4 linked regions of the Homo sapiens genome follow. The protein of the gene in region 3 interacts with the protein of the main gene of each other region in a pairwise test. Each region holds a gene or a part of one and is shown on either strand. Other genes may lie near its edges.

What was found.
Region 1: the proteins of PRDM14 (region 3) and RAD51D interact in binary tests that used the Homo sapiens proteins (3 or more experiments, as listed by UniProt).
Region 2: the proteins of PRDM14 (region 3) and ZNF587 interact in binary tests that used the Homo sapiens proteins (3 or more experiments, as listed by UniProt).
Region 4: the proteins of PRDM14 (region 3) and HOXB5 interact in binary tests that used the Homo sapiens proteins (3 or more experiments, as listed by UniProt).

Annotation. Positions count from the first base shown.
Region 1 is NC_000017.11:35,116,837-35,123,808, forward strand, and holds the start of RAD51D (DNA repair protein RAD51 homolog 4), read right to left. Parts: upstream 3,025-6,972; 5' UTR 2,778-3,024; coding exon 2,696-2,777; intron 2,337-2,695; coding exon 2,275-2,336; intron 1,784-2,274; coding exon 1,665-1,783; intron 202-1,664; coding exon of another isoform or gene 23-201; intron 1-22. Other genes in the region: FNDC8 (fibronectin type III domain-containing protein 8), read left to right, coding at 4,858-5,066. UniProt on the Homo sapiens protein: Involved in the homologous recombination repair (HRR) pathway of double-stranded DNA breaks arising during DNA replication or induced by DNA-damaging agents. Bind to single-stranded DNA (ssDNA) and has DNA-dependent ATPase activity.
Region 2 is NC_000019.10:57,845,376-57,852,877, forward strand, and holds the start of ZNF587 (zinc finger protein 587), read left to right. Parts: upstream 1-4,483; 5' UTR 4,484-4,663; coding exon 4,664-4,696; intron 4,697-4,939; exon of another isoform or gene 4,940-5,186; intron 5,187-7,502. UniProt on the Homo sapiens protein: May be involved in transcriptional regulation.
Region 3 is NC_000008.11:70,061,232-70,068,259, reverse strand, and holds part of PRDM14 (PR domain zinc finger protein 14), read left to right. Parts: coding exon 1-30; intron 31-1,754; coding exon 1,755-2,025; intron 2,026-7,028. UniProt on the Homo sapiens protein: Transcription factor that has both positive and negative roles on transcription. Required for the maintenance of embryonic stem cell identity and the reacquisition of pluripotency in somatic cells.
Region 4 is NC_000017.11:48,590,780-48,598,658, forward strand, and holds HOXB5 (homeobox protein Hox-B5), read right to left. Parts: upstream 3,001-7,879; 5' UTR 2,904-3,000; coding exon 2,342-2,903; intron 1,678-2,341; coding exon 1,430-1,677; 3' UTR 478-1,429; downstream 1-477. Other genes in the region: HOXB6 (homeobox protein Hox-B6), read right to left, coding at 5,634-5,893, 6,957-7,449. UniProt on the Homo sapiens protein: Sequence-specific transcription factor which is part of a developmental regulatory system that provides cells with specific positional identities on the anterior-posterior axis.

The sequences.
Region 1 (6,972 bases), on a different chromosome or scaffold from region 3:
ACGAATAAATGAAATAATGTACCGTGAAGTGCTGACCGCAGTGCCTCGTTCATCGAAAGCATTCAGCGAAAGTCCATCTGTTCCTCCATGCCCAAGTCCTGCCTTCTTCAGAGCATTCCTGACCCCACTCCACGATCTCCCTGCGGGGACCTGAGGCAGCTGCAGTCCTCCCAGGTTCCCACTTGAGTGCGCCCTCCATGTCTGTTGGATTTATAAACTCCCTAAGCCCAAGGCCAATCGGCTTCCTGTTCACCACTCCCTCCTTACCGTTGCCTCCCTCGGTGCTTACAGCTCTCTTGTATTCACTTGATTTTCCCCTACACCCAACTAGAGGCCTTAAGGGCAGGGGCCTTGCCTCATTCGTGTATGTATCATCTGCACATACCAAGCACCCAGCAGGCCCTTAGCCAGTGCTTGATGGATCACAGACTCAGACCCCCAACCAGGGAAAGCAAGCACCACACTGCATGAACCCTGCCAAGAGAATGTGTTAAGGAAACAGAAAGGGCCACACCAATCCAAAGACCTTTATGGTGGCAGTTATTCATCAATTTCTGAACAAACAGACCAGGAAAAAGGTCAAGACTCACTTGGCCAGCAAACGTCTGTCGTCTTTGCAACTCTTCCCCAACCCACCAAACAACGTGGCGGGACATAACTGCTCCTTTTTTTTGAGAGAGTCTCGCTCTGCCACCAAGGCTGGAGTGCAGTGGTGCGATCTTGGCCTACTGCAACCTCCACCTCCCACATTCAAGCAATTCTCCTGCTGCAGCCTCCCAAGTAGCTGGGACTACAGGCGCCCGCCACCACGCCCGACTAATTTTTGTATGTTTAGTAGAGACGGGGTTTCATCATTTTGGGCGGGCAAGCAGGCCAGGCAGGTCTCAAACTCCCGGCCTCCAGTGATCTGCCGCCTCAGCCTCCCAAAGTGCTGGGATTACAGGTATGAGCACTGCATCTGGACCGCAACTCCTTCTTTCTCTGAACTCTCCTGTTCTCTACTGCTGCAGATGTGGTGAATAAGTTCTGGGCCACATACTCCCGCGCTTGAGCCTCACCTTTGCCACTTGCTCCTCTTAGGCTAAACTCAAGTAGGGTTAATTATCTCTAACTGGTAGAGTCACTGAAGAGATTACCTAGAACATACAGGTAATGCCTGCACATAGTAGGCACTCAGTAAATGTTCTCTCTTGCCATATCCTTAAGTAAAATAAGAAGTAGGGCCAGAGAAGATGGTGAAAATAATGAGATACTGACAGCTTGTGTTATAGGACAATGCTTCTCAACCAGAGGCAATTGTGCCTCCCAGGGGACATTTAGCCATGTCAGGAGACATTTTTGATGGTTACAACTGGAGCAGGGCTGGTGCTACTGGCATCTAGTGGGCAGAGGCCAGAGATGCTGCTAAACATCCTACACTGCACAGGACAGCCTCCACCCCCCAACAAATAATTACCTGTCCCTAAATATCAATAGTGCCAAGGCTGAGATACCCCATAACCCTGTTATAGGATAAGAATTCAGATGTCCTGACCCCTTTCCTTCCCATCCATTATTGGTTAAAAAAAAAACCCCTCCCGTCTAGACTCAAGCATCAAAAGCAGAGCTGAGAGGAGGCCCCATCCTCCTGCCTCTCTCCTTCTTCCCCAAGTACACACACAAACCTGCCAATGCCAGTGGACAGGATGGCAGTGGAGGTCTTCAGTTCCTCGTAGAGATCAGCGCCATTCACGGGGAAAGCCGAGAACTGAGCCAGCAGCACCCGCCTCAGGGCAACCAGGGCCTGCCAAAGGGCCCCAGACTGCTCAGCAACAAATTGCCCGTAGAAGCTGGCATCCCAGGGTGTCATTCACCCTACTTCTCAATATCTGAGAACCCTCTGCTCCCTTTGGCTTGGGATGGACTTTTGTTATTGTTGTTGTTTCAGACAGGGTCTCACTCTGTCGCCCAGATTGGAGTGCAGTAGCACGATCTCGGCTCACTGCAACCTCTGCCTCCCGGGCTCAAATGATTCTCCTTCCTCAGCCTCCCGAGTAGCTGGGATTGTAGGCGTGGGCCACCACACCCAGCTAATTTTTGTATTTTTAGTAGGGACAGGGTTTCACCATGTTGGCCTGGATGGTCTCGAACTCCTGACTTCTGACTCCAAGTGACCCACCCGCCTCGGCCTCCCAAAGTGCTGGGATTACAGGCATGAGCCACCGCGCCCAGCTGGCTTGGGATGGACTTTTTAAAAAGACACTCAGGTTTGGAATGTGGAGATCAGGAGCTCACCTTGTAAGACAAGCCACATTTCTGAGCTACCTCTTCCAGGTCTGCAGAAACCAGGTCCACCACTGAAAACAAAACACGTATAGCGGATTGGCAGAGAGGACTGGGGCCTCCCACACTTGGTTTTTCCTCATCTGTCAAATGGGGTGTCAATTCTACCCCCCGGCAGGCCGTCTCAGGAGGCCAGTGTGAAATAACAAAGCTGCAGGAGCCGGCGCGGTGCCCTGCACACAGTAGGAATCTCTACCCTGTTTTAGAGCTTGGCTCCCCACGCCCACCCTTCCTGAGCCTCTCCAGAAGCGCGGCCCTCTAGGAATGGAGGGGAAGCGCCCTGCAGGTATGCCAGGGCAGTGCGCCAGCCCTCGGGGCCTGCCCAGGTTGTGCGAGGCCCGCGCGGCTCCCTGGCACGCGCACACCCGGTCACCTGTCTTGATCCTGTGGCTCCTGAGAAGCTGGATCATCTCCTCGGTAAGGCCAGGGCACAGTCCGACCCTGAGCACGCCCATGTTCCCCGCAGGCCGGAACAGCCCCAGGGGGACTGCACGTCACGTGGGCATTCGCGGGGGGTCCTCTCCAGACGCCCCTCCCCTACCCCTTCCTAGAGAGGACACAGGCGCGCTGGCTGCCGGAGGAGAAAGGAGAGAGGAGGAGGCGGCACCAAGGGTAGGGCTGGGGGTCATCCGCCCGCCCGGGATCCGCCGGGATTCCCGCGCCCAGAGCCCGCCCGCCGGGTCGCGCCGCGCTGCCGCTTCCGGGTTCCAGGCTGGCGCGCGGCGAGGACCTGGCCTGCAGCGCCATCTGCGGGCCGCACGGGGCAGAGCCGCTGCGCCCCTCTCCACCGCCTGCACAGGTTCCCGAGTCCCACGACCCCCTCCGCGCTCAACACGCCACCCGCGGCCACATTCGGCCTCTACCTTCTGCCGCAACACACACACCGACCTTCTAAAGAGCCTTCTGTGCGCCAGCTTCCGTTCCAAACGGAACGGATCTCCGCTGGAGACAAAATGCGACACAAGACGACCCGCCCTTACCCCCAGGGAGCTTACTGTGAGCAAGGGAAAGACAGACAATGAAAAGGAATCGCAGAAATCACATCATTACAGATTATACGACAGGTGTCAAGAAGCAGCAAAGCATCCAGAGGGCACCTGCGTCTATTTTTCAAAAGTTTGTTTTGTTTTGGTTGAGACAGGGTCTCGATCGGCCGCCCAGGCTGGAGTGCCCTGGTGAGATCTCAGCTTTGCAGCCTCGACCTCCTGGGTTCAAGCGATCCTCCTGCCTCAGCCTCCTGAGTAGCTGGGACTACAGTCACGTGCCACCTTGCCCAGCTAATTTTTGTATTTTTTGTAGAGGTTTCGCCTCTACAAAATGGGGTTACACCATGTTGCCCACACAGGTCTCGAACTACTGGGCTCAAACAATCCTCCTGCCTTGGTCTCCCGAAGTGCGGGGATTACAGGTGTGAGCCACCGTGCCCGGCCTCTATTTTTTATTTTATTTTTTATTTTTTTTAAGGGCAAGAAACCTTGGTTATATAGAACACACACAAAAAGATATGATTTGGTATTTTTAAATGTCCTTTGCTTTGCCTCATCCATAGGAAGAAATAAAACTTTACATGGTTATCTCATCACAAATCTGTGAGGGAGGCGCTATTTTTTATCCCTGTTTCACCAATGAAGAAACTGAGGTTCAGTGAGGTTAAATCACTTGCCAAAGGTCACCCAGCTAGGCGGCACAGGGCTGGACTTCACATCCACATCTGACTCTGCAAAGCCAGTGCTTTCTAACAGCCCCCCTCCCCACCCCTGAAGCTGTGTACATGTTTTCCTACTGTAAGGTGGTTTCTCTGAGAGCAGAGATCATGTGTGGCCCATCTCTGTATCCCACTGCAACTGCCACCATTGTCACTCCACACAGGAAAGTACTTGGGAGTGTGGGTGTGGCACATTTAGAATTCTAGCAGTGAAGTCTGATCATATGTGAGCCATGAACCCCTATGAACCATGTGGGCTTTCCCTTTCACTAACCGACTGGGCACAGTGGAGTCTGCAGCCTATGGTTTCAGGATAGAGAGCCTTAGCTTCTACGGACAAAGTTTCCCTCCCCAGCAGACACTTTCCAATACTGCCTATCTCTCAGGGCCACACCACCATCCTCTACATCCCACGCCCATCTCTCACCATCCTTATTCTCCTTCCCAGGGCAGTGCGGAAGGACACAGGTGTCAGGCATTTTGAGATCTTCAGAGAAGGGCAGGGCTGCCATCACCATGGAGTATTAGAGCTGGAAGGGGCCCAAGGGCTCATGCAGTCTGTTCCTTGGTTTTACCCCTCTCATGATGCTGCTTCACAGTCACACTGGCCCTTGGTCTGGCCAGCCACATAGCTAGCCTGGCAGCAGTAGCCTCAAATCAAGGGGGGAGGCTGGCCTGTAATTGTTACACTCTGTGATGATTATGAAGTCAGCTCATTGCACCTGCAGACTGTCCAAACTAAAGGTGGGCCACTGCCCCCACAGTTTCTCTCTGCTTCTGGTCAGCTGGGTTGTCCTGCATGGTGACGGGTGTCATCCCGAACAAATCAGATGGCATCAGAGGCACTCCATCAAGTGGGAGATGGGGAGGAGGCTGTACTGAAGAAAGAAAACTTCAACATGATGAATGCCCTTGACCAACTGCCAAAACCCTTTTCAAACCCCAAGTCTATGAACCGGACCGTCACTACCAAAGGACTCCCACTAGCCTCAAAGGGCAATTTGGTCAACTTCTTGGAGGATGATACCATCAACCTACTGTAAGTCACAAATCTGGTCCCTCCCTCCCTCCCTCCCTCCCTCCCTTCCTTCCTCCCTTCCTTCCTCCCTTCCTTCCTTCCTTCCTTTTTTTTTTTTTTTTTGACAGGATCTTGCTTTGTCACCCAGGCTGGAGTGCAGTGGTGCAATCTCGGCTCACTGCAGCCTTGAATTCTTGAGCTCAAGTGATCTTCCCACCTCCACCTCCCAAGTAGCTGGGACTATTGACGCGCCACCACCACACCTGGCTAATTTTCATATATATATATATATATATATATATATATATATATATATATATATATATAAATTTTTTTTTTTGGTAGAAACGGGGTTTCACCGTGTTGCCCAGGCTGGTCTTGAACTTCCGGGCTCAAGCGATCCTCCCGCCTCAGCCTCCCACAGTGTTGGGATTATAGGCTTGAGCCACCATGCCTATAGTTTCTAAGAAAGGCTGGAGCCGAGGGCTGGGCAGAGAGACAAAGAATCTATACTTCCCTGACTTGTCACAACCCAGTTCCTTGACTCCCAGAGAAGAGCGTGTGGGCAGGTTGGATCTATTTATGTATTCCTGAGCCCCAAATCACTTCTTGGAGGCATATGGAGCTCCCACTCCAGGAGGCCTTCTTGGATTAGTCAGTTTGTTGACAGTGCTCCTTATCCTGCCTTGACTGGCTGTGGTCCTCACCATCACCAAATCCCTGACACACCCATGGCTCCTCTTCCTCAACCCTCTCTCTTTGGTACCTTCATCTACCTGACTGCTCCCCAGTAGCCTGCCTTCCTTCGGACTGGGTTTTGCTGTTCCTCCTCACCAAGTCTGGTTTTCCTCTACTTCATTCCACAAAACTCTTTGAGCACCTGCAAGGTGTCTGTCCCAGTGTTTAAGTTCTGGGAACGCAGAGCTGGAAAGCACAGTCCCTGCCTTTAAGGAGCTCCCAGTCTGGCATGTGGAGGTCAGGGGTGAAAGGATGGGGATCATGCAATAACCAGAATGATATAGCATGGTCTGGTAAGTGCCAGGACAGGATGCCTTGAGGGACCAGAGGGGCTTAGTATAGCTTGAGACTGGGTGCAGTTGAAGGAGGCTTCTTGGAGGAAGTGATATTTGAGCTGAGTCTCCAAGGAAGGAAAGGAGTTAGCCAGTGAAGGGGTGGTGGTACAGGGTGATGTGGGCTGAGGGAATTACTTGCAGGTCACCCACCACATGGGTGAATGACCTGTGCAGTCACAAATAGCCCTGCACTTACAAGGGGCCTGTGCTTAGTTTAATGCTTTTCTGTTACTATCTTCAAATTCAGAATTTTTGAATAAGGGGCTCAGGGTACTTCAATTTGCACTGGGCTCCACAGACTACATAGCTGGTCTTGAGTATGTGAGAGGGATGTGGTGTCCATTCCCCAAAGTGCCCGTAAGCAAGCAGGTATGGCTAAAGTGATGGATGCTCGTAGGAAACTTCATGGTATACTGGGAATCTTGGACTAGAAGCCCAAACTCAGATCCAAGTTCTGCCACTTAGAGATTTATGGTCTTAGACAACTTAATTAAGATCGGAGGCCAGATGGGGTAGCCCACGCCTGTAATCCCAGCACTTTGAGAGGCTGAGGCGGATGCATCACTTGAAGTCAGGAGTTTGAGACCAGCCTGGCCAACATGGTGAAACCTCGTCTCTACTAAAAATACAAAAATTAGCTGGATGTGGTGGCACGCACCTGTTGTCCCAGCTACTCAAGAGGCTGAGGCGGAAGAATCCTTTGAACCTGGGAGGTGGAGGTCGCAGTGAGCCAAGATTGTGCCACTGCACTCCAGCCAGGGGTCTGGGAGACAGAGCAAGGCTCCATAAAAAAAACAAAACAAAACAAAAAAAAAAACAGATCAGGGACCCTCAGCCCCTTGTTTGCCAAATGG
Region 2 (7,502 bases), on a different chromosome or scaffold from region 3:
TGAATGTTGTGTAGCTAAGCTTTGGTCAGAGGAAATAATCTAAAGGTTTTGTGAATTCATGTAACCTTTTGGGCTGCTCACCTTAAGGTAACTCCTGTATTAACAGGAGGAACAGAATAGGGAAAAAGATCTCAGTTCAGTGATGTAGCTTTGTGACCAGCCAGTGATCCAGTTCAATCAGGTAGAAATGACCTTCCTGCTACATCAATATTTGCTTCTATGGAGGCTAGTTTCCCCACTTAGGGCATGAGAAGAATTGGTAAAGTCAACATAAAATTGCCAAACCTGTCACCAAAAATGATGGCAAATCTGTATTTTTCTCTTAAACCGTGTTATAAAAGCTGTAATAAGGTATAGGCTGAGCATCATGGCTCATGCCTGTATTCCCAGCACTTTGGGAGGCCAGATTCCTTGAGACCAGTGTGGGGAACATGGCAAAACCTTGTCTCTAGGAAAAATAGCCAGGTATGGTGGCATGTACCTTAGTCTTAGTGATGTGGGAGGATTGCTTGAGCCTGGGAGGCAGAAGTTGCAGTGAGCTAAGATTGCAACGCTGCAGTCCAGCCTGGGTGATAGAGTGAGACCCCATCTTAAAAATAAAATAAAGATATAAATGACATCCAATAAAGTACACATATTTGAGCTGTAGGATAAGTCTTGAATTTTATTATAATCCCGTGAAACCATCATCAGAGTCACCATAATGAATTTATCTAATCTATCACCTTTGTATTTACTTGGAGCCTTTATAAAGTTTTTCTCTCTGCTCTTCAAACAACCATTGATTTACTTTGCTGTATGATGGAGTACTTTCCATTTTCTGGAATTTTCTGACTGATGTAATAAAGTGTTTCCTCTTATAATCCCTGGGTGCTCTCCTGCATCATGCTTATTTTGATGTCATTGTAGATATATGAGTTGTTCATTCGTTTTATGTTGCTGAGAAGTATAGTCTGCCGTGAAATGTCATTGTATATTCATTCATTCATCCATCCATTTATGGATATTTTAGTTGCTGCATACTTTTTTTTTTTTTTTTTTTCAAGACTCTCTACCAGGTTGGAGTGCAGTGGTGTGATTTTGGCTCATTGCAACCTCCACCTCCCAGGTTCAAGTGAGTCTCCCACCTCAGCCTCCCACGTAGCTGGGATTACATGCGTAAGCCATCATGCCCAGCTGTTTTTTGTATTTTTAGTAGAGATGGGGTTTCACTGTGTTACCGGGTTCATCTCAAACTCTGGGCCTCAAGTGATCTGCCTGCATTGGCCTACAAAAGTGCTCAGATTACAGGCCTGAGCCATGAGCCACCGCACCTGTAATTGATTCTGAGGCCAGGCACGATGGCTCACGCCTATAATCCCAGCACTTTGGGAAGCGCAGGTGGGTGGATCACTTGAGGTCAGGAGTTTGAGACCAGGCTGGCCAACATGGTGAATCCCCATCTGTACTAAAAATACAGAAATTAGCCAGGCATGGTGGCGCATGCCTGTAATCCCAGCTACTCACTCAGGAGGCTGAGGCAGGAGAATCACTTGAACCCAGGAGGCAGAGGTTACAGTGAGCTGAGATCACACCACTGCACTCCAGCCTGCGCAACAGAGTGAGACTCTGTTTCAAAAAAGAAAAAAAAAAATTTATTCTGAGATAATCCCAGTTCCCAGTGTGAAACTATTCCTGCAGTCACTGGAAAATAATAACCACTTTCTTGTAAGGAGATGAAATTTTGGAGCTCAGATGCCGTGTTTATATTGTTATTCAGATGGCCTTTTTAACCTGTGCTTTAATGGTGAAAGTTGTAGCGACTGATGTGTGTACCACAATGGCATTGGCTAAGTTGCTCGTCCTTTGAGATAGATGTCAATGTGATTAAAGAAATTGAGTACACCTTAGCATATGAATTAAGAAACATATTGACATAGTGATCCTCATAGTGACATAGATCAGCAGGACTTGTGTTCTGAGCACTGGTCATGACCCTGCTCATGATGAAACAGGATCTGGTCAAAACAGGATGCACTAAAGAAACCAGCTGAAAGCAGTAAAACTAAGATGGCAAGAATATGAACTCTAGTTACCCTCATTGCCTCACTGCTCATTATATGCTCATTATAATGTATTAGCATGCTAAAAGACACTCCCACCAGCACCATGGCCGTTTACAAATGCTATGGCAATGCCCAGAAGCTACCTCATGTAGTTTAAAAGAGAAGGAACCCCTGGTTCTGGGAACTCCCCACTCTTTTTCTAGAAAATTCATGAATAACCCACCTCTTATTTAGCACATAATTAAGGAGTAGCTATAAATATAGCTAGCCAACAATCCACGGGTGCTACTTTGCCTGTGGAGTAGCCCTGCTCTGTCTGTGGAGCAGCCATTTTCCTGTTCTCTTGCTCTCATAAACTTGCTTTGCCTTCACTTTACACTCTTGGCTTGCTCTTGAATTATTTCCTTTATGAAGCCAGGAACCCTCCTGGATTGAGCCCCAATTTTGGGATTTGCTAGCATCACTAGAGCAATTTTCTGTGGGAACCAGTGGCCAACTGCCAGCTTCACTACCTGCTTCAGGGTGTACCAACATCCGTCTATTTCCCTGTCATTAGATCTTTATTATTATTTTATTTTTTTGAGACGGAGTCTAGCTCTGTCGCCAGGCTGGAGTGCAGTCATGCGATCTCAGCTCATTGCAACCTCTGCCTCCAGAGTTCAGGCGATTCTCCTGCCTCAGCCTCCCGAGTAGCTGGGACTACAGGTGTCTGCCACCATGCCCAGCAATTTTTTTAACATGGGTTTTGCTGTGTTAGCCAGGATGGTCTTGATCTCCTGACTTCATGATCTGTCCACCTCGGCCTCCCAAAGTGCTGGGATTACAGGCGTGAGCAACCGTGCCCGGCTAATTTTTTTATTTTTATTAGAGATGGGGTTTCACCATATTGGTCAGGCTGGTCTCGAACTCCTGACCTCATGATCCACCTGACTCAGCCTCCCAAAGTGTTGGGATTATAGGCATGAGCCACTGCACCCAGCAATTTATTTATTTTTTATTTTTTATTTTTTTTGAGACAGAGTCTCACTCCTGTTGCCCAGGCTGGAGTGCAATGGCATGATCTCGACTCATCGCAACCTCCACCTCCAGGGTTCAAGTAATTCTCCTACCTCAGCCTCCCGAGTAGCTGGAATTGGAGGCATGCAGCACCATGCCTGGAAAATTTTGTACTTTCAGTAGAGACACGGTTTCTCCATGTTGGCCAGGCTGGTCTCGAACTCCCGACCTCAGGTGATCCACCTGCCTTGGCCTCCCAAAGTGCTGGGATTACAGGTGTGAGCCACCATGTCTGGCCTTTATTTTTATTTTTTGTGGGTATATAGTAGTGTATATATTTGTAGATTACATTAGATATTTTGATGTAGCCATGCCATATGTGATAATCACATAGGGTAAATGGGGTCTCAGTCACCTCAACATTTATCCTCTGTATTATAAACAGTCCAGTTATACTCTTTTAGTTATTTTTAAATATATAATTAAATTATTTTGACTATAGCCACCCTGTTATGGTAGCAAATATTAGGTCTTATTCATTTTTGCTCACTGTTTTTTGTACCCATCCTGTCATCATGTCTTATGGAGAATTTTCTTTTGTTCCCAACAAAACAATGAAACTCGCAAAACTGACTGTAATGATTCAGTCTACGTGAATTTAAAGAGCAATCAATACTTAATGTTCTCAGCTCTGAGTGCACACATTGTAAGTCTGAATGATGCCAATGATATGGCCACTTAGATAAGTAAAGTTTGGGAGCATCTCAAATAGTATTTTTATTCTCTGGGTGCAGGATGAGCTTCCTAGAGTCTGATGTGATACCTATTTGATGCTTTTACAAAGAATCAATAATCTTCCTCCTTTGAGGTGTGAGCAGGGCTTTCCAGCAGCCCTCAGAATGTAACATGGTCTGCATTCGGTTTGCTCTTGGAGGATACCACCATTGTTGGCTGAGAGCTCTGGGAAGTACTTTACCCAGAAGGCGCTAGTTGCAAGGCCCAGGATGAGGGATTTCTGGGCATGCTTGTCAGGCCAGGGAGTACTGGGTTGGGACTGAGAAGGCACAAGAGGAGTAGTCATCTCTGCTCCCAAGTGGCAGGTCTGAGGCTCATAGGCACTGGCTGGGGTGATGCCTGCTCCACCCACAGTTGATGGCAGCAGCCACACTGAGGGACCTAGCTCAGGTAAATGCTGTGTATTACAGGCTTCACCCCAGCTAGAGTAATACAGGTAGAGGAACCAATAGGTACAAAGGCTTGGAGGTGCATCTGAGCCATGAACATTTCAGAACCTGGTAACCATGTTGTGTCATGGAAAGTGGGGAACTACATTACCCAGAAAGCTCTGCTTTAAACGACAGCCGGTCAGAGCCAGTGAGCACTCGGAAAGAAGGCATTTCCACGTGTGCACGTAACGTAAGGCCGAGACTTCCGGGGTCTCTAGTAGCGGCTGTGTATCGGCGATGCGGGTGTTTCCCCAGTTTGTGGCCCCTGAGTGCTGGGTGGGACCGCGGTGACTGAACCTAGAAGGTGGAGAGGAATCGTCCTCGGTGCCCAGAGGCGGCTCTGCAGCCCCGTGACGGCGACCACTGCTCCCGGGCCGTGCTTCCCCAAGTAGTCCGATGGCAGCGGCTGTGCCGAGGCGCCCAACTCAGGTAATTGTGGTGCCTTCTGTGCCCTCAGGTCACCCCATCGTCACCCAGGTCCTAAACCAGCGAGGGAGCGGCTCCTGCTCGTGGGTCTGTAGCCGGTACCCGGCGTAGGAACACTGAGGCGCTCACAGGAGGCCTCTCCTTGTAACCGTCCAGTGGGTTCACGTTGCCAGCTGCCTAGACAGAGCCGATTTATGAAGACTGGGGAATTGCGATGGAGAAATAGTAATTCACGCAGAGCCGTCCTGCTGTTCGGGAGACAGGAGTTTTATTATTCAAATCAGTCTCCCTGAGCATTCTGGGATCAGAGTTTTCAAAATTTGGCGGGTAGGGGCTTGGGAAGTGGGGAGTGCTGATCAGTCTGGTTGGAGATGGATTCATAGGGGGTTAAAGTGAGTTTTTCATGCTGTTTTCTGTTCTGGGTGGGATGGCAGAACTGATTGACCCAGATTACCGGTCTGTGTGTTGTCCGCTGATCCATCCAGTGCAGGATCTGCAAAATGCCCCAAGCACTGATCTTAGATATTGGGGAAACCAGCCCCACACCACCCAGCAGATACCCCGAGTCCTGCGGAGACAAAGGAGTTAGAAAGAGACAGAATACGCATTTAAAAGGCGGGTCCAGGTGGCCAGAGCATTGGAGGCTTCCTGGCGGCCCAGAGCTCTTGGGCTCCACCCAGTTTATTGGTTTACAAGCTCTTTGTTCTTATGGCTGATTGGAGGGGGAGGAAGCGATCAGGAAAAGGATTAATCAGTAAAGGAGAACTCGTGAGTCATTCCATAAGATGTAAAGCACTGGCCGTTTCTGTGAATTTCCTTGAACAAAGGCGTGTGTCTAAACTACTTAAGATCTTTAACTTAACTGAAACGGGTGGCTGCGGGTTTCAGGAGGAGCCAAGATGTTTGATTATGCTCCACTGCTTCAAGGGAGTGTGATCTCCCTGAGCAACCCATGGAATGCTGCTGAAGAGTTATGCTCTCGGGGCATAAAGACATGAAGGCAATAAGGAGACTTTTCTCCTCAGAGGCCGCCCATGGCTTCCCATGGGTGTCTCACACAGGGGAGACCAACTCAACTAGCACCCCAGAAACTCACATTAGGTTTTACAATAGTAAGGTTATCTTCAGGAGCAACTTGGGGAGGTTCAGACTCTTGGAGCCAGAAGCTGCATGACCCCTAAACCGTAATTTCTATTCTTGTAGCTAATTTGTTAGTCCTGCAAAGACAGGCTGGTCCCCAGGCAAGAAAGGGGTCTTTTCAGGAAAGGGCTATTATCAATTTTGTTTCAGAGTGAAACCATGAACTGAATTCTTTTCCAAAGTTAATTCAGCCTATGCCCAGGAATGAAAAAAGACGGCTGAAAGGTTGGAAGCAAGATGGAGTCGGTTAGGTCTGATTTCTTTCACTGTCATAATTTCGTCAGTTATAATTTTGCAAAGTCGGTTTCACCTGTTTCTGACACCAGTGGGATGCAGTGGGGAGAGTGACAGGCACAGGTAGGGGTGCAGGCAATGGCCTGCAGATGGACAGAGCTGGAAGGATGGAACCTGGGGTTCACAGGCATCTGTCAGGAACAACGTGTGAGATGGAGCTCTTCCTGGTAGAGCAAGCAGGCCAGGGGCTGTGCATTCATCATGAGGATTCTAGAAGCCATGGAGAGTTTTGAAGAAAGGAGGGACATGATCCAAATCCAGGCTTTTAAGAAGTTTCCCAAAGGCCAATCAAAGGAAGAACATCATAGAGAGAGAGGATGAGGACTTTGGGGCCTTGGGAGGTTGAATCCGTTTTGTAGATCACATAGATGGTAGAGATGACATTTTGCACTGAGAAAAGCAGGTCAGACAACCAGCCTTAGGGTTACCTGGTTCCAGGGACAAGAAAGGGTTCAGGGAGTCCTGAGCTTATCAAATCCTGTGACATGTTTGTAATGTCTGCCTTTCCCCTCAGGCACTCCTGGCTGCAGAAGCACTTAGGGAACCCACACAGGGAAGTGGAGGGTGTTCCATTCCCTCATTGGTCCTGACGCCATCTACAGGTTCTCTAGCTTGTGGTGTCCTGGGACTCTTAAGTGCCATTTTTTTCAGTCCTTTGATCCGAGGACCCTGGAGAATCTCTGAAGCCAGGATACCAAGTCCATGACAGGTTATATGGAGGTATTCCCATTTCTGTCAACCAATGTAAACACCCTTGTAAGATTAACCCAGGATTTGCTACCAGGTTGTGAAATGCTTAGAGATAAAACGGATCAAAGTCAGGAGGTGATATTACCACAGTTCTACCTGGCTACAGGCTTCATCTGGCTGGACCTTGTTGCATAGACTGTGGGTTGAGGGAAGAGGAAGAAAGGTCAGAGATAAGGCTCCTGCCATAATCCAGGTGAGGGTTAATGGATCAGATAAGTGGTAAATCACATGGGTCTGGATTCAGGATTCACTTTTTGTAAAGAGACAGCTAGGTTTTCTTTTTTTTTTCTTAACGTGGAATTTCAGTCTTGTTGCCCAGGCTGGAGTGCAATGGCGCAATCTTGGGCTCACTGGAGCCTCTGCCTCCCAGGTTCAAGCAATTCTCCTGCCTCAGCATTCAAGGTAGCTGGCATTACAGGCACCCACCATCATGCCCAGCTAATTTTTGTATTTTTAGTAGAGACGAGGTTTTACCATGTTGGCCAGGCTGGTCTCGAACTCCTGACCTCAAGTGATCGTCACATCTCGGCCTCCCAAAGTGCTGGGATTATAGGCATGGACCAATGCGCCCAGCCGAGACAGCTAGGCTTTTTTTTTTTTTTTTTTTTTTTTTTTTTTGAGACGG
Region 3 (7,028 bases):
ACCTACGGAGACAATTCTGTGATGTGGGAGGTAAATCTGTTTCTGGTGGGTCTGCTGCTGAAAATGGGGCGGGAGACTAGTCCGGGGAAATCTTGGCCTTTGCCCTTTTGGGAGAGTCCTGGTCAGAGAGAGAGGACATCCAGGGCAGATATCTGTGGTTTGTGTTGCCTGTAAAAGGAAGGAACGGCCAGTGTTTGCTCCATGAGGATAGCACCTCTGCATGAATTCTGTGTTTTGTGGGTGCCTTAAGTCATTTTAGTCTGGAAGATTAGCAATGGAATATACATTTAAAGAATCAATATGTTGTATTATATTTATAGACAAAACTAAATGCTTTAGATATTATAGAGTGCTGAAACTATGCTAAAGAGAATAAAAACAAGTTTTAAAATTCAATATTATTCACCTATAAAATTAGTCAAGGATTAAAAAAAAAATAACCAGATACTCTTCAAGATCTAGTGATGATATATTAGGGATATGCTAGTGGGACTGCAGTTTATTACCTGCAGGAGAAAATTTGTCAGAATGTATCAGATACCTTAAAATGTTCAAAGTCCCTTGACCCTGAATTTCTACTTCTAGGAATATAGTACAGGAAAATAATCTGAAATTGAGGCTATGTGGAATATGTTAATCCTAGGGTTGTTTATAATAACAAAATGTTGGAGACAGCGAAATTGCCAGCAGCAGAGAAAGAAGTAATCTTTCTTTGTTTTTTTTTTTTTGTTTTTTTTTTCTTGAGACGGAGTTTTTGTCTGTTACCCAGGTTGGAGTGCAGTGGCGTGATCTCAGCTCACTGTGACCTCCACCTCCTGGGTTCAAGCAATTCTCTTGCCTCAGTCTTCCGAGTAGCTAGGATTACAGGCATGTGCCACCATGCCCGGCTAATTTTTGTATTTTTAGTAGAGAGGGGTTTCACCATGTTGGCCAGGCTGGTCTCGAACTCCTGACCTCATGATCCGCCTGCTTTGGCCTCCCAAAGTGCGGGGATTACAGGTGTGAGCCACCAGGCCCGGCCTTGAAAGAAATAATCTATAGCTCCATTAATATGCATGAAACCTAACTGGGAGTAAAATATAAAACTATTCAGTTGTGTTTAAGTGGTGGAATTAAATAAAACCTTTTTGTTTCACTTACCTCTGCTTATGAAATTAACATGTGCTCACTATAGGAATTTGGGAAGCAAGAAAGTGATAAAAGTAAGAATCTTTTAGAATATGTCACATTAGGCAGGCTCAGTGGCTTACACCTGTAATTCTAGCACTTTAGGAGGCCAAGGTGGGAGGATCACTTGAACCCAGGAGTTTGAGGCCAGCCTAGGAAAGAGTGAGGCCCTGTCTCTACAAAAAATTTTTTTAAAAAAATTTGCCAGGCGTGATGGTGCATGCCTTTAGTTCCAGCTACTCAGGGGGCTAAGGTGGGAGGATCATTTGAGCCCAGGAATTCGAGGCTACTGTGACCTGTGATTGAGCCACTGCACTCCAGTCTGGGCAACAGAGTGAGACTCTGTCTCTGAAAAAAACAAACAAACCCAATATGTGACATTACCTAGAGAGGTGTCCTTAAACTAACAAATCTATGTTGGCATAAGTAAATTTATAAACTACTTGTAATGACATAAAAATCAGAATGATAGAAGTGTATTTGGTGGACTCAAGTGTGATATTTAGGTTACAAGTATTAAAAAATTTATTTTATAGATTAGACCAAAAAAGAAGTACAATACAAACTTCATGTCTTATTTCATTTAGATCTTTGAAGATGGTCATTTGAGCCACTTTATAGATGGAAAAGGAGGTACGGGGAACTGGATGTCCTATGTCAACTGTGCCCGCTTCCCCAAGGAGCAGAACCTAGTTGCTGTGCAGTGTCAAGGGCATATATTTTATGAGAGCTGCAAAGAGATCCATCAGAACCAAGAGCTCCTTGTGTGGTATGGAGACTGCTATGAGAAATTTCTGGATATTCCTGTGAGCCTTCAGGTCACAGAGCCGGGGAAGCAGCCATCTGGGCCCTCTGAAGGTGAGTGCACACCCTCGCCTTGCCCAATGAGGGCATCCCAGTAGAAGGACTGGGCTCTTTTCCACAAACCCTCCATGCACAGCTCCTCCCTCCTAAAGGCTAATGCAGAGGACTAACCGAGAGTGTCTCTAACCAGGGGGGAATTACCCAGGTGAAGGAAAGCATCCTCAATTTCCCAAAGCTGCGGAAGCTACTCCTATTTATAAAGATATATACTCCTATTTATAAAGACTTGTTCTTCTTCCCTACCTTCCACCCCAAGAGTAAAAGAAAACGTACTAAATGGATGTAACTTCTACCATAGGTGAGCCAGTTTCTGATTCATCTCTGCCCAGGCTAATGTAGCTGAAGTCTAATCACTAGAGCAGTGTTTTTCAAATGGTGGGTTGCAGAGTTGCATGTCTTAGTGGGGTGGGAAATCAATTTAGTGGTCAAGACCCACATTAAAAAAAAAAAAAAGTATAGAGTAGAATAGAAAATATTGATGGGAATCCCTTAAGAGTAAGGATTGTTTTGTGAAATTTCTATTTCACATGGGTATATGTGGGTATGGTGGGTGTCAAGCATAAAATACATTGCCTACTATGGGTCTCAGGCAAGTTTGAGAAATACTGAGCTGGACTCTCACTCTCAAACTTTAATGTGGGAATGAATACCCAGGGATCTTCATGATGCTGGTTCTCATTCAGGGTAGGGGCCCAGGATTTGGTATTTTTATCAACTTGCAGGGAGTGCTGCTGGTCCTGGTCCCTGGTCCACATTCCAGTAGCAAGGGGCGAGGGAACCACCAGCCCACTCTAGGGGTGAGACTTTGGAATTTGCATGTTAAATAAGCTCTCCAAGTGATTTCTATATACACTGAAGTTTAGGAACTACTAATCTAGTAGGTGGGACAAGATAAATGTAAATTCCTGTAAATAAGAGAGAAGGCAGGCCGGATACTGTGGCTCACACCTGTAATCTCAGCACTTTTGGAGGCGGAGATGGGCGGATCACTTGAGGTCAGGACTTCAAGACTAGCCTGGCCAACATGGTAAAACCTCATCTCAGGTCGGGCACAGTGGCTCACGCCTCTAATCCCAGCACTTTGGGATGCCGAAATGGGCAGATCACCAGGTCAGGAGATCAAGACCATCCTGGCTAACGTGGTGAAAACCCGTCTCTACTAAAAATACAAAAAATTAGCGGGGCGTAGTGGCACACACCTGTAGTTCCAGCTACTCAGGAGGCTGAGGCAGGAGAATCATTTGAACCCAGGAGACAGAGGTTGCAATATGCCAAGACCGCACCACTGCACTCCAGCCTGGGCAACAGAGTAAGACTCCGTCTCCAAAAAAAAAAAAAGAGAGAGAGAGAAGGCAAATTATTATGATGTAATAAATGTGTAAGGAGCAGGTTTAAAAAAAAAATGGCCCAGGCGTGGTGGCCCACGCCTGTAATCCCAGCACTTTGGGAGGTGAGGCGGGCGGATCACGAGGTCAGGAGATCATAGCCATCCTGGCTAACACGGTGAAACCTCTTCTCTACTAAAAATACAAAAAAATTAGCCGGGCGTGGTGGCGGGCCCCTGTAGTCCCAGCTACTTGGGAGGCTGAGGCAGGAGAATGGCGTGAACCCAGCAGGGGGAGCTTGCAGTGAGCTGAGATTGCGCCACTGCACACCAGCCTGGGCGACAGAGCGAGATTCCGTTTCAAAAAAAAAAAAAAAAAAAGTAAATTGCATCTGCATGCCTGTTTTCCTGCTAGGCTGAGATGCTTCAGGGCAGGAAATAACCCTAAACACTTTAGTATCTCGTGCTTCTGGATCCCAGTGCGTACTGACTGAGAGGAAGACATTAGAACTAAGCTAGAAAAAGCTGCTTAGGGATGAGATGAAATAAGGCACGTGTAAGAGGGAGAGAGGGAAGGCAATCAGGCTCAGGGAACAGTGAAGCAGAAGGCAAGGAAATGTCCAGAAATTAGGGGGTAAATAATAAGCAGTCATTATTTATCTAATGATAAATAATGAGCAGTCAGCCGTCATTATTTATCTAATGATAAATAATGGTCCCAATGATGAGGGGCTGTCAGGATTGTTTTGGTGAACTATCTTCCTACTCCCCCAGGTATCTTATGTCCATGCTGGGTTCCCCCCGCCACTGAACCATCATAAGCCCTCATTCTGTTGCTTGTTCTGATCGCCTCTGATATCTGCATACAGGTTGAGTATCCTTTTTCTGAAATGCCTGGGACCAGAAGTGTTTTGGTGGGTGGTGTGGGTGTGGGAATGTAGGTGAAGATAGGAATGGAGGCAAAAATGGTTGGGATTCTCTATGATCTGTGGAGCTCTAAGTTGTCTCCTACTTAGCACCAAACCAAGACCTGTTGGTCACTTCCTGAAATGTACCAACTCCTTTCGAAATAAAAGTCAACAGGCTGGGCGTGGTGGCTCACACCTGTAACCCCAACACTTTGGGAGGCCAAGGTGGTTGGGTCACCTGAGGTCAGGAGTTCACGACCAGCCTGGCCAACATGGTGAAACTCCGTCTCTACTAAAATACAAAAAATTAGCTGGGTGTGGTGGTGCATGCCTGTAATCCCAGCTACTCAGGAGGCTGAGACAGGAGAATCGCTTGAACCCAGGAGCAGAGGTTGCAGTGAGCTGAGATGGCGCCACTGCACTCCAGCCTGGGTGACAGAGTGAGACTCCATCTCAAAAAGAAAAATGAAAGAAAGAAAAGTGAACAATGGATTTGAGAAAAGTATCTGCTTAGTAACTGGCAAGATGGTTATTATCCTTTTGAGAAATCATTATTATTTTTTGAGATAGGGTCTCACTCTGTCACCCAGACTGGAGTACAGTAGTGTAATCTAGGCTCACTGCAACCTCTGCCTCCAGGGTTCAGGCATTTCTCCTGCCTCAGCCTCCCGAGTAGCTGGGATTACAGGCATGCACCACCACACCCAGCTAATTTTTGTATTTTTAGTAGAGATGGGGTTTCGCCATTTTGGCCAGGCTGGTCTTGAACTCCTGGACTCAAGTGATCCACCCACCTTGGCCTCCCTAAATTCTGGGATAACAGGCATGAGACACCATGGCCGGCCATTTTTGAGAAATTTTTTCACCGTATGTATCAAATTATTACAATGTTTGTAACTTTGATGTCTCAGTAATACTCTTCTGGAAATCTATTATCGAGAAATAGTCCAAAAGGAAAAAGCTATGCTTATGAAAATTTTTAACTGTGGCACCACTCTTGTGAGTGAAAAATCACAAACAACCTAAATGTTCAGTAGTATAATAATTAAGTAAATGATGATACAGGCTCAGCAGCTCCAATCAAGAAATCCCAAATCCAAAATGCTCTAAAATCTGAAACTGAGCACTGACATATTGCCAAAAGTGGGAATTTCCACACACCAGTACTTGACACAAACTTTGTTTCATGCACAAAATTATTTAAAATATTGTGTAAAATTACCTTCAGGTGGGCCAGGCACGGTGGCTCATGCCTGTAATCCCAGCGCTTTGGGAGGCCGAGGCAGGCAGATCACCTGAGATCAGGAGTTTGAGAACAGCATGACAAACATGGTGGAACCCCGTCTCTACTAAAAATACAAACAAATTAGCTGGGCATGGTGGCAGATGCCTGTAATCTCAGCTACTCAGGAGGCTGGAGCCGGATAATCGCTTGAAACCGGGGGCGGAGGTTGCAGACCGAGCAAGATTCCGTCTCAAAAAAAAAAAAATTACCTTCAGGCTATGTGTATAAAGTATGTATAAAACAAAACATAAATGGACTTTATATTTAGACTTTGGTTCCATCCCCAAGATACCTCATTATGTATATGAAATATTCCAAAGTTCGAAAAAAACCTGAAATCCAAAACACTTCTGGTCCCAAGCATTTCAGAAAAAGGATACTCAACCTATTTGTTATTAACATGGAATAGTATGCCGATATCAGAGGCAATCAGAGCAAGCAACAGAATGAGGGCTTATGATGGTTAAGTGCAGGGGATACCCAGCATGCAGATAAGATACTTGTGTTCCAGTTCTGAACCAAGTGATACCTGATGCTTACAGCATTATTATGAGGACATATATTTTGGACAATGGAGGGAAACTTGTAAACAACTTAATTTGTTGGGAATAATTATAAATGAATGTTAATTTGTTAATCTGTTAATATGAATGGTTTGGATGTGATAAAAAGGAAAGAAAAATTAAAATTCCATTGCATTCTCAAATGAGTTTTTTTCCCCAAAGGCTTTTTGGTGGGGATTGGTGGTAGGTGGGAGCCTTCCTCTTTAAGGTCTTGAGTGGTGAGGGAAGGGTCTAGACTCTATGTGGGCGGGTTATTTGAATATGCAAGCATTCCCCTCTTGTGAGGGAGAGAGGGAATTTGGGTGTGTGTTTTGGGGTGTGGAGGTGTGAAGAGCTAGGGGGAGGGAGGATAGGGAACAAGATAAAATTAGGAAGGATAGGGAACAAGATGAAATTAGGTTTCATTTCTACCTAAGTGGTTGTTCTTAAGCGAACTCAGTATTGAAACTTTATTCTGAATTTTGGTGTGCTTTAGTGCTTAGGTTTGTAAAATTGCTGACCCTCTCTTCCCTTCCCACCCCAGGAAGCAGGAAGGCCAGGTATTTCTGACCAATAAAAATTCTACCTCTGTGCCAAAAAAGTGTCCCAGCACGGGGATTCTGAGAGTATTAGCACCTCAATGAAAGTGATAGACAGAGCAGGGCGATGGATCAGCTTGGGGCTGGCAGTTGCCTTCCTGGTTATTTACTTAATGAATAGTTTATTTCCTTAGCCACCTGTTAAACGTGCCTGGGATGTAGTTGTCAACTAACAAAGCCCCTGATGGACAGCTTCCCTGCTGTCCTGATGCTGAGAAGATTTCTATCTGCAGACTCTTGCATAGACTCACTCTTGGCTGCTCTTCCTCCCTGGGGTCAAACAATGAGATCTCTGTGGTGCATTCATAGTCAAAGCCACTTTATCCTCTGGGATCCAGA
Region 4 (7,879 bases), on a different chromosome or scaffold from region 3:
GAGGGTGAGAGAAATCCTTTGAAATCCAGCTGAATTTTTTTTTTTTTTTTTTTTGCTTTAGTTGGTGGCAGAGCTGAATTGGGACTTGGAGTAGGAGACAGGGGGCTGGGCAGGCCTCTACCACTCCCAAAAGGCCAGGAGCCTCCTGCTGAGGACTTAGGCCCAAATTACTTTCCCAGAAGAGTTTTCCAGAGGCTTCCTTGGCCAGCTAGTGGAAGACCAGGATGAAGTCTAGCTCAGCCTTTCCTCTGCCCCAGCCCCACATGGGGTTTCTGGGCCTTGGAGTCCCCCAGGCATGAAGGTCTGTTCCCTGGCCCAAGCACTGTTGACCAAGCCAGTGACTTACATGGCTGAGAAGAGTTGTTGGGGAGCAGCCTACTTTTTCTTCCCTGCACCCCAGATCTATTGAGAATGGTGCAGGGTGTGCCCGGGATGGGAGAGGCAGACCCCTCGGAGAAAAGACAAGTGGAAGGGCAATGGAGTGGGGGAAACATTTATTTGACTTCCAGGAAAGCTACAAACAAATACCAAAAGCGAATCACTGAGACAGGCCCCGCAAAGACAGATTTCACACGTAGCACAGCATCCACTCGCTCACTACAAATGGTCTTGGAAGCAAGATGGGTAAGGGAGAGATGGGTCTGACCCAGACTATCCCCATATTTACAAGCTTTGGGCCCTCTAGCCAGACCCATGGATTCACAGAGAAATACACAAGACATTTTGCACTGAGGATCATTTTTGTTTCCGTATACTCCCAGACCAGGCCTTGTGGGGCCTACCCAGGCAGCAGGAACTTAAATCTCACTATCTTCTTTCTCTCTTCTCAATACCATCCCTTTGGTCCTCCCTAGCCCCTTCCCACCCTAGGACCAAGCCCCTAGGAGACTTGGGCCTAGGGAGTGAGGAGGGAGGAGGAGGAGAATGAAAAGGGACTCCATCTCCGAAGCCAGCTCAGCTTGACCCCACTGCGGCACTACCCCACCTCAACTGCTGCCCCTTACAGAAGTTTCCAGCTGAAACTCAAAATACAGCGATCATCTTTTTATAAATAAGTTAGAACACAGATGGGGAGGGGAGAGTTCACATTAAACATGCGAATTTCTTTTTTTTTTTTTCCTGGGGGAAAGACTGCAACCACAGACACAAACATTCAGAAACACTGGCGGATTTGGGACAAGCAGAAGGGAGTTGGGAGCATGGAAGGAAAATAATAATAATAATTATTATTAACAATAATAACAAGATAACCAGTCCAGGAGAGAGGGAGCCACAGGAAGACCTAAGACCAAACGAAATATCGTAACACAAGGCGAGGCAGGCTTGTGGGAACCGGTCCCCAGCGGGCGGCGGCAGAGCGGGGAGGATTGGAGGGGCCAGGGCTGGGGGTGGCACGGGCTCTTGGGCCGCTGGGCTCCTCTGGGCGGGCTCAGGGCTGGAAGGCGCTGCCAGCTGTAGCCAGGCTCATACTTTTCAATTTGTTGTCCTTCTTCCACTTCATGCGCCGGTTCTGGAACCAGATCTTGATCTGGCGCTCGGACAGGCAGAGTGCGTGGGCGATCTCGATGCGCCGTCGCCGGGTCAGGTAGCGGTTGAAGTGGAACTCCTTTTCCAGCTCCAGGGTCTGGTAGCGGGTATACGCGGTCCGGGCCCTTTTCCCGTCCGGCCCGGTCATATCTGGAGCAGATAGAGGAAAGCCGCAAGGCAACATTATTCCGGTTAAGGGAGGGGGCACTGGGTGGGAGGGGGCGGGGGAGCAGGACCCAGGCGTCCCGGCACCCAGCTCACCACAGCTCCAATCCTCTCTACTCCAGATGCCCACATTCAAGCTCGATTTCTGCACCCCTTTCTACTGCATCCCCCACTTCTGCAGGCAGCCAGTGCGCCCGGCTTTGTCTCTTGCTCGCTCCTAGTGCCTCACCCTTGGCTGGGCTCAGGCGGCCGCTCGCCCCGGGAGGGAGGAGAGCGGTTGCACTTTTGCCCCGGAAAGCTCCTTTTACTGTTCACCCCTTCTTTGCTAGCGACAGTCTCAAAATTTCAGGGGTAAGCAGGACCCTTCCCCACATTATATGAACCCCATCCTTTATCCTAAAGCTGGTTCAGCTGCGCTAATAAAAACCTAAGCCGAAGCTGGAAACAAATTATTAAAAATACCCCCCTCTTAACAGAGAGACCCTTTTTGGCTCTGTCTACGAAGCTATGAGGCCCCTCTTAGATACTTCTCCCCCTTAGAAAAATGAATCTATATTTAGGGTAAAGCCAAGCTCTCCTTGTCCCCCCGATCCCACCCCAAAACGCAGAGAAGGAAAGCCGAGAAGACAAAAAAGAGAGAGAGAATTACCATGGCTGATGTGAAGCTTCCTCATCCAGGGGAATATTTGCGGAGTCTGCCCCTCGGGCGCGGCTGTGGAGGTGGCCATGGGCTCTGGCTGCGCCCGAGCTAGGCTGGGGCTGCTTAGCTGGCTTGCCGCTTCCTCAGGCTCCGAGGACGCGCTGGCCTCGTCTATTTCGGTGAAATTGGCGCTGGAGCTGGCTGAGGTCGCCTGGTCGGAGGGGGACGAAGCAGAGGGCTTGGCGCCGTGGCTGTCGCCGTTGGTGCAGGGCAGGGACTCGGGCGAGGACAGGGAGCAGCTCGAAGCCGCTTGCCTGAAGCGGGGCTCCTGGGCGGGCGCGGGGAAGGCGCGCGAGCTCTCGCCCACCGCCCCAAAGTGGCTGGAGGAGGCCGAGGAGCGGTTGACGCTGAGGTCCATCCCATTGTAATTGTAGCCGTAAGAGCCGGTGTGCATGGCAGCGGGATCCCTGTAAGAGCCGCTCAGAGAGCTGCCACTGCCATAATTTAGCAACTGATAGTCCGGGCCATTTGGATAACGCCCCGAGAAGGAGTTTACAAAGTACGAGCTCATTTGGGTGATTTTGGAGGGCTTGATTTGTGGATCGTGGTCGTTATAACCCTGTGCTTCACGATTTATGATGTATTAATGAATTATAGCGATGCACTGTACTTCGTTTTGCTATGTATGCGGCCAAATATGGGGGGGGGGTTGGAAGGGGGGTGGGGGGCGTTAGGGAATCACGTGCTTTTGTTGACCAGTCGTAAATTCTCGCTGATGACCTCAAGAGGTAATTCATGCTCTATGGTTACAAATAATGACGATCCGAGAATCGTTAGGGCCGATTCAATGCGAGCCTCCGAGAGAGGGGGAAAAAAGGAGAAGGGGGAGAAACAGAGAGAAGGTTGGCTTTGGCCTCTGAGCAGAGCGCGCCACCTCCCGGCGACCGACGGGAGCGCGGGCGTGAGACCGCCATGGCGGCGGGCGGCTGCCTCCCTGCTGGCTCCCTGCAGGCTCCCTGCAGTCGCCGGGAGAGAAAGAAACCCGGCCAAGGCTCAGCCACAGGGTTGAGCCTTTTAGAGCAGGGGTTGGGCTTTTTACCCACTTTCTTGTGGGTGGGGTTAGCCTCTCTATTTGGTTCTTTCTCCCTACATCATCATTGTCGTTATTATTTTAACTTTGGATGAGAAGATCAAAGATAGAGTTGCTTTTCCCTTTCTTGGGCTTTGCAAGTCTCCGAATTGGAGGCGGAAATGGGGGAAGGGTTGGAAGTTGTGTGTGAAAAACAATTATTGCAACGGGTTTTCCCCAGGAGCTTAGTCCGGCCTGCATCCTGGTGGAACTGCTGTTACCGGTCCACAGCGCCCAGGCCGAGCCGGCAGGGCTGGGCGGGAGGCTTGAAAAAGAAGGAGAAGCGTTCACTTCTCCTGGGCCACTTGGAAGTTCGAAATCCCCTTCCGGACCTCCTTGGTGGTCCTTAGCCCAGGCGTGGGGAGTGACAGAGCAGGACAGGGACCCCAGAAACCGAGCACAGCTGGGGCTAAGCGGCCTAGTTGCCGAAAAGACTGCAGCGGCCACCGCGTCTGCTGCTTAGTTTGAGTAGTAACATGTGTCTGAGAGTTTGTAAAGCGGGATCCCTTCCCCTCCTCCTCGGCTATTGCATTCGGAGGCCCCACTACAGGTCCCTCACTCGCAGCTAGGCAGTTTGAGAATTTGCCTGGTGGCAGCCGCCTTCCCGGAAAAGGGGTTCCAAGGACCCGCATGCTTTGCTGAGCACGCTGGGCGGCCAGAGACCGCCGCAGCTGGTCTCCTATTAGGAGGGGACTATTTTCTTTAAAAATAAGAAAGGAAGCGAGAGGGCGGAGGAATAAAGGAAAACAGTGACCGCAGCTTGCCTTCTGGGTGCCGGTGCAAGCAGAGAGAGAATGAGCCATTCTGGGTTGAGAGGATGACACTAAAAGCCCCATCACCTGGCCTCCTGCCCTGGGGTCTCCAAGGAGCAAGGGAAAGTTGTGGCCTTCGGCCTGTGCCTGGCTGGTGGCTTTACATTCCCCTACTTGAGGCTGATCTCCTACTTGAGGCTGATCTGCTACTTGAGGTGGGAAGGGGCACCTGGAGCCTTCAGCTGCAGGGTGAGAGATACCCAGTGGCCCCATTTTTCAGTCTCCAGAGCCACAGGCCAGGAGCGGAGGGCCAAGGCTGGCGAAAAAACCTGGCCATGTGGACGGGCCAAAGACCAGGGGTCGCTGCGAAGGTGAGGACAGAAAAGCGCTGCAGAGGCCCCCAGACTATGGCTCCGTCTCCGCCAGAGAGCTTTAGGGGCCTCAGTGGCTCCCTTAGTGCTGTGTATACACGAGGAAAGGCTAGAGAATGAGAGGGACACAGCACCTCTCCATCCCCCAAGTCTGCACGGGGAGAAGCGGCTGTGAGCCTCAGCACCAGGGAAACGCAGCGCTGGGGCCTGGGCAGGACTGATCGCTCCAGCCTTTATCTCAGCTGTAACTTCCCAGTCGAACAGGGCTCGCTTCGGCGGGCCAGGGCTCTCGCCTTTGCTGAAGAATTCTGGCTCAGGAAAGATGGAGAGGCTGGGGGTTGAGGAGAGAGGAAAAAATGGCAGGGGAGGATTGGAGGTGACCGAGCGTCGAGTTTTCACATCTTTATTATTGTTGTTGTTGTTGTTATTATTATTATTATTATCATCATCATCATCATCATCATCATCGAAGTATTTCACGTCCAGAGCTAAGACAAGACTACAAACACAACACATAGAAAATTAATAAAATAGAACTTTGTTTTCTTCTGAGGCTCCTCTTCTTACTTCTAGGTAGTATGTGCTCCTTCCAGTGGCTTTGGGGAGGGGGTGGGAGAGACGACAGGTCTGGGATCAGGGAGTCTTCAAGGCCCCCGCTGAGGGGACAGCGAATCTACCATTGAACCGTGCACGGGGGACATGGACAAAATGAGACGCGACAGGGACAAGAGCATTTTGCTCTGCTTCCAGGAAACATCAAGTGAGTCCGCTCCTCAGTTCTCACCAGGAAGCCTGATCAGGCTGAGGCGAGTTCCTCGGGAAGGAAGGGCGCGCGGGATGCTGGGTGGGCTCGAGTAGTGAGGCCTCAGAGCACCCGCCGGGAGCTGTGCGGGCGGGGGCGTCCAGGAGAGCGCTGGGCCCCGCCTGTCTGCGCCGGAGAGCAGGTCTCCTGGCTCCCCCACCCGAGAGCCTTCCTTCCCGGGTCTCTCTGACGCCCTCGGCTCCCCACAGGCCTTTCCCCTCGCGTCCTCCCTCCCTTTCCAGCACCTTCACTCGGCCTGTTTTTCTTCCTCCTCCTCGGCACTGAGCTGAGACGCGCTGAGCAGTTTGCTCTCCTTTTTCCACTTCATGCGTCGGTTCTGGAACCATATCTTGATCTGCCTCTCCGTCAGGCACAGGGCGTGCGCGATCTCGATGCGCCGCCGCCGCGTCAGGTAGCGATTGTAGTGAAACTCCTTCTCCAGCTCCAGCGTCTGGTAACGTGTGTATGTCTGGCGGCCTCGCCGGCCGCTGGGCCCAAAGGAGGAACCTGTTACGCAGAGTGGAGATGCTGAGGCCTGCGGTCACCGGGCCCAGGACCCCCTCCCCTAGTCGACCCTCGAACACAGACTCCAGCCAGTACCGGGATGCCCTCTATTCTGCCGGCTCCCTTCCCCCGTTTCGCACTCCTCCAGCGCCCCCTCCAGATTCCCTCCTAGTCTCCTAGGCCTGTGCCGTCTGTCTAGACTCTAGATGGGGGAGGGGAGGAGCAGTTTGAACTCCCACCTGAGCCTGGGGGGAGGGGCTGGTCAGGTGTGTCTCTTCCTAGTTGCATCTTGTCTTTCCCTCCCTTTCCATCCATCTTGTTCCCACCCCCCGTCATCCCCCCAACCCAATGATAAATCCAGGCCGTTAATCCGTAATGACGTAGATCGATCCATAGTCCACATTAACGGCTCCTCACTTTCGAGTCCGGCTAATGGACATCAGTTGGGACTTAAGGCCAACAAATAATCCAACCTGAGACCCCGCGCCTGTTTCTCCCTCTCTCGCTCCGCCTGCTCCCTCTCTCTTCCTTCCCCTTATTCCTCCTCCCTCCTCTGACTACCACCCCTTTCCTGGTGCCTCATCTTGCCCCAGCTCCCCACCCACAGGGAAACACAGTCCCAGACAGACTCAACTCTTTCTCTTCAGCGTCACCCCCTACCCCCTTGCATGACGCACTCCGTTTTTAATGGAGCCGTCTTTGGTTGGGGAACCCTACCAGGGCTGGGAGAGGGGGGTTGGGGGCTCAAAGTAAAGCCAAGCCAGTGACTGCAGGCTCCTGCTCCCTTCCCTGTCCTGGAACCCCGGCTCTGGCCAGGCGCCCCAGGAGAGCACACTTGCTCCCCATGGCTCCCAGTGCGGCTGGGACTTTGCAAACTTTGTAACTCCTGCCTAATAGGGGACACAGCGAGAGACCCCCGGCCGGCGCCCAATCTTCTTCTATCTCCTAACTGAGATGCCCACCCAGCACCCTGTGGGAGATTGGGGCAGGGGGCGCTCACTAGTTCTGTGTCCCGGGGTGGGCGCCCAGGGGAGCCGGGGCGACGGCGACGGGAAGTCTCACTCACTGTTGCACGAATTCATCCGCTGCATCCACGGGTAGACCGGAGTGGAGCACTTCTGCTCTTCTGTCTCGCCGAACACGCTCTTGTCCTGCGCGCAGTCCGACTTCCGCGGCTCGGGGTGGAACGGGGGCTGCTCGTCGGCGCCGGAGAGTGCGCAGGCCGACTCTTTCTCGCGGTAGAAGGCCGGCGCCGGCCCGTAGTCGCAGGGCGCCGCTCGGCCGTAGCCACCGCCCGCCGGCGGGTAATAGGAGGAAGTGGCAAAGCCCTTGTCCTGGCCCGGCCCTGGCCCGTAGGGCGCGGGGTAATGTCTCAGCGGGTCCGCATAGCCCGACGAATAGAGCGGTAGCTGGCCCAGGAAGGACTCCTGCCCGCTGGCCAGAGTGACGGGGAAGGTGGAGTTCACGAAATAGGAACTCATTGGGAGGGGAGGCGCGCGCGGCCGCTGCTGCTCCGCCGGGTTTATGATTTGTTGTGTTTTATAGTCCGAGCGCCGCGCCTATTAGTAGTATATCCGAGATTGGGTTTTAGCTGAGGGGGGATGGCGAGGTGCCAGTGAGGGCCAGAAGGAAATACAACCATCTGATCCAACACTGACCAATGGCAGAGGCAGGAATTGTCAAATAGCACCCAGGAGGAGCGCAGCCCGCACGAGGGACCCGCGCACAAACCTATCAACCTTTTTTTTTTTCCTCCTTCTCCTTCGCCTTTCTCCTCTCTCCCCCCAACAACACAACGCGTCCTGTTCCACCTACGTAGGATCTGTGAAACAGGCTCAGTGCCTTTGAGGGAGGAGGGAACGTTTAGATTGAGACCACCCCACTCCCGGGTGATTAAATAAATATGTCTCTCCCCCACCCCACGCAGGATTGGAAAAAGTTAATTGTGTTTTCAGAAAAGTTAACCCCTGCGTTGCTTCGACCCCTTCT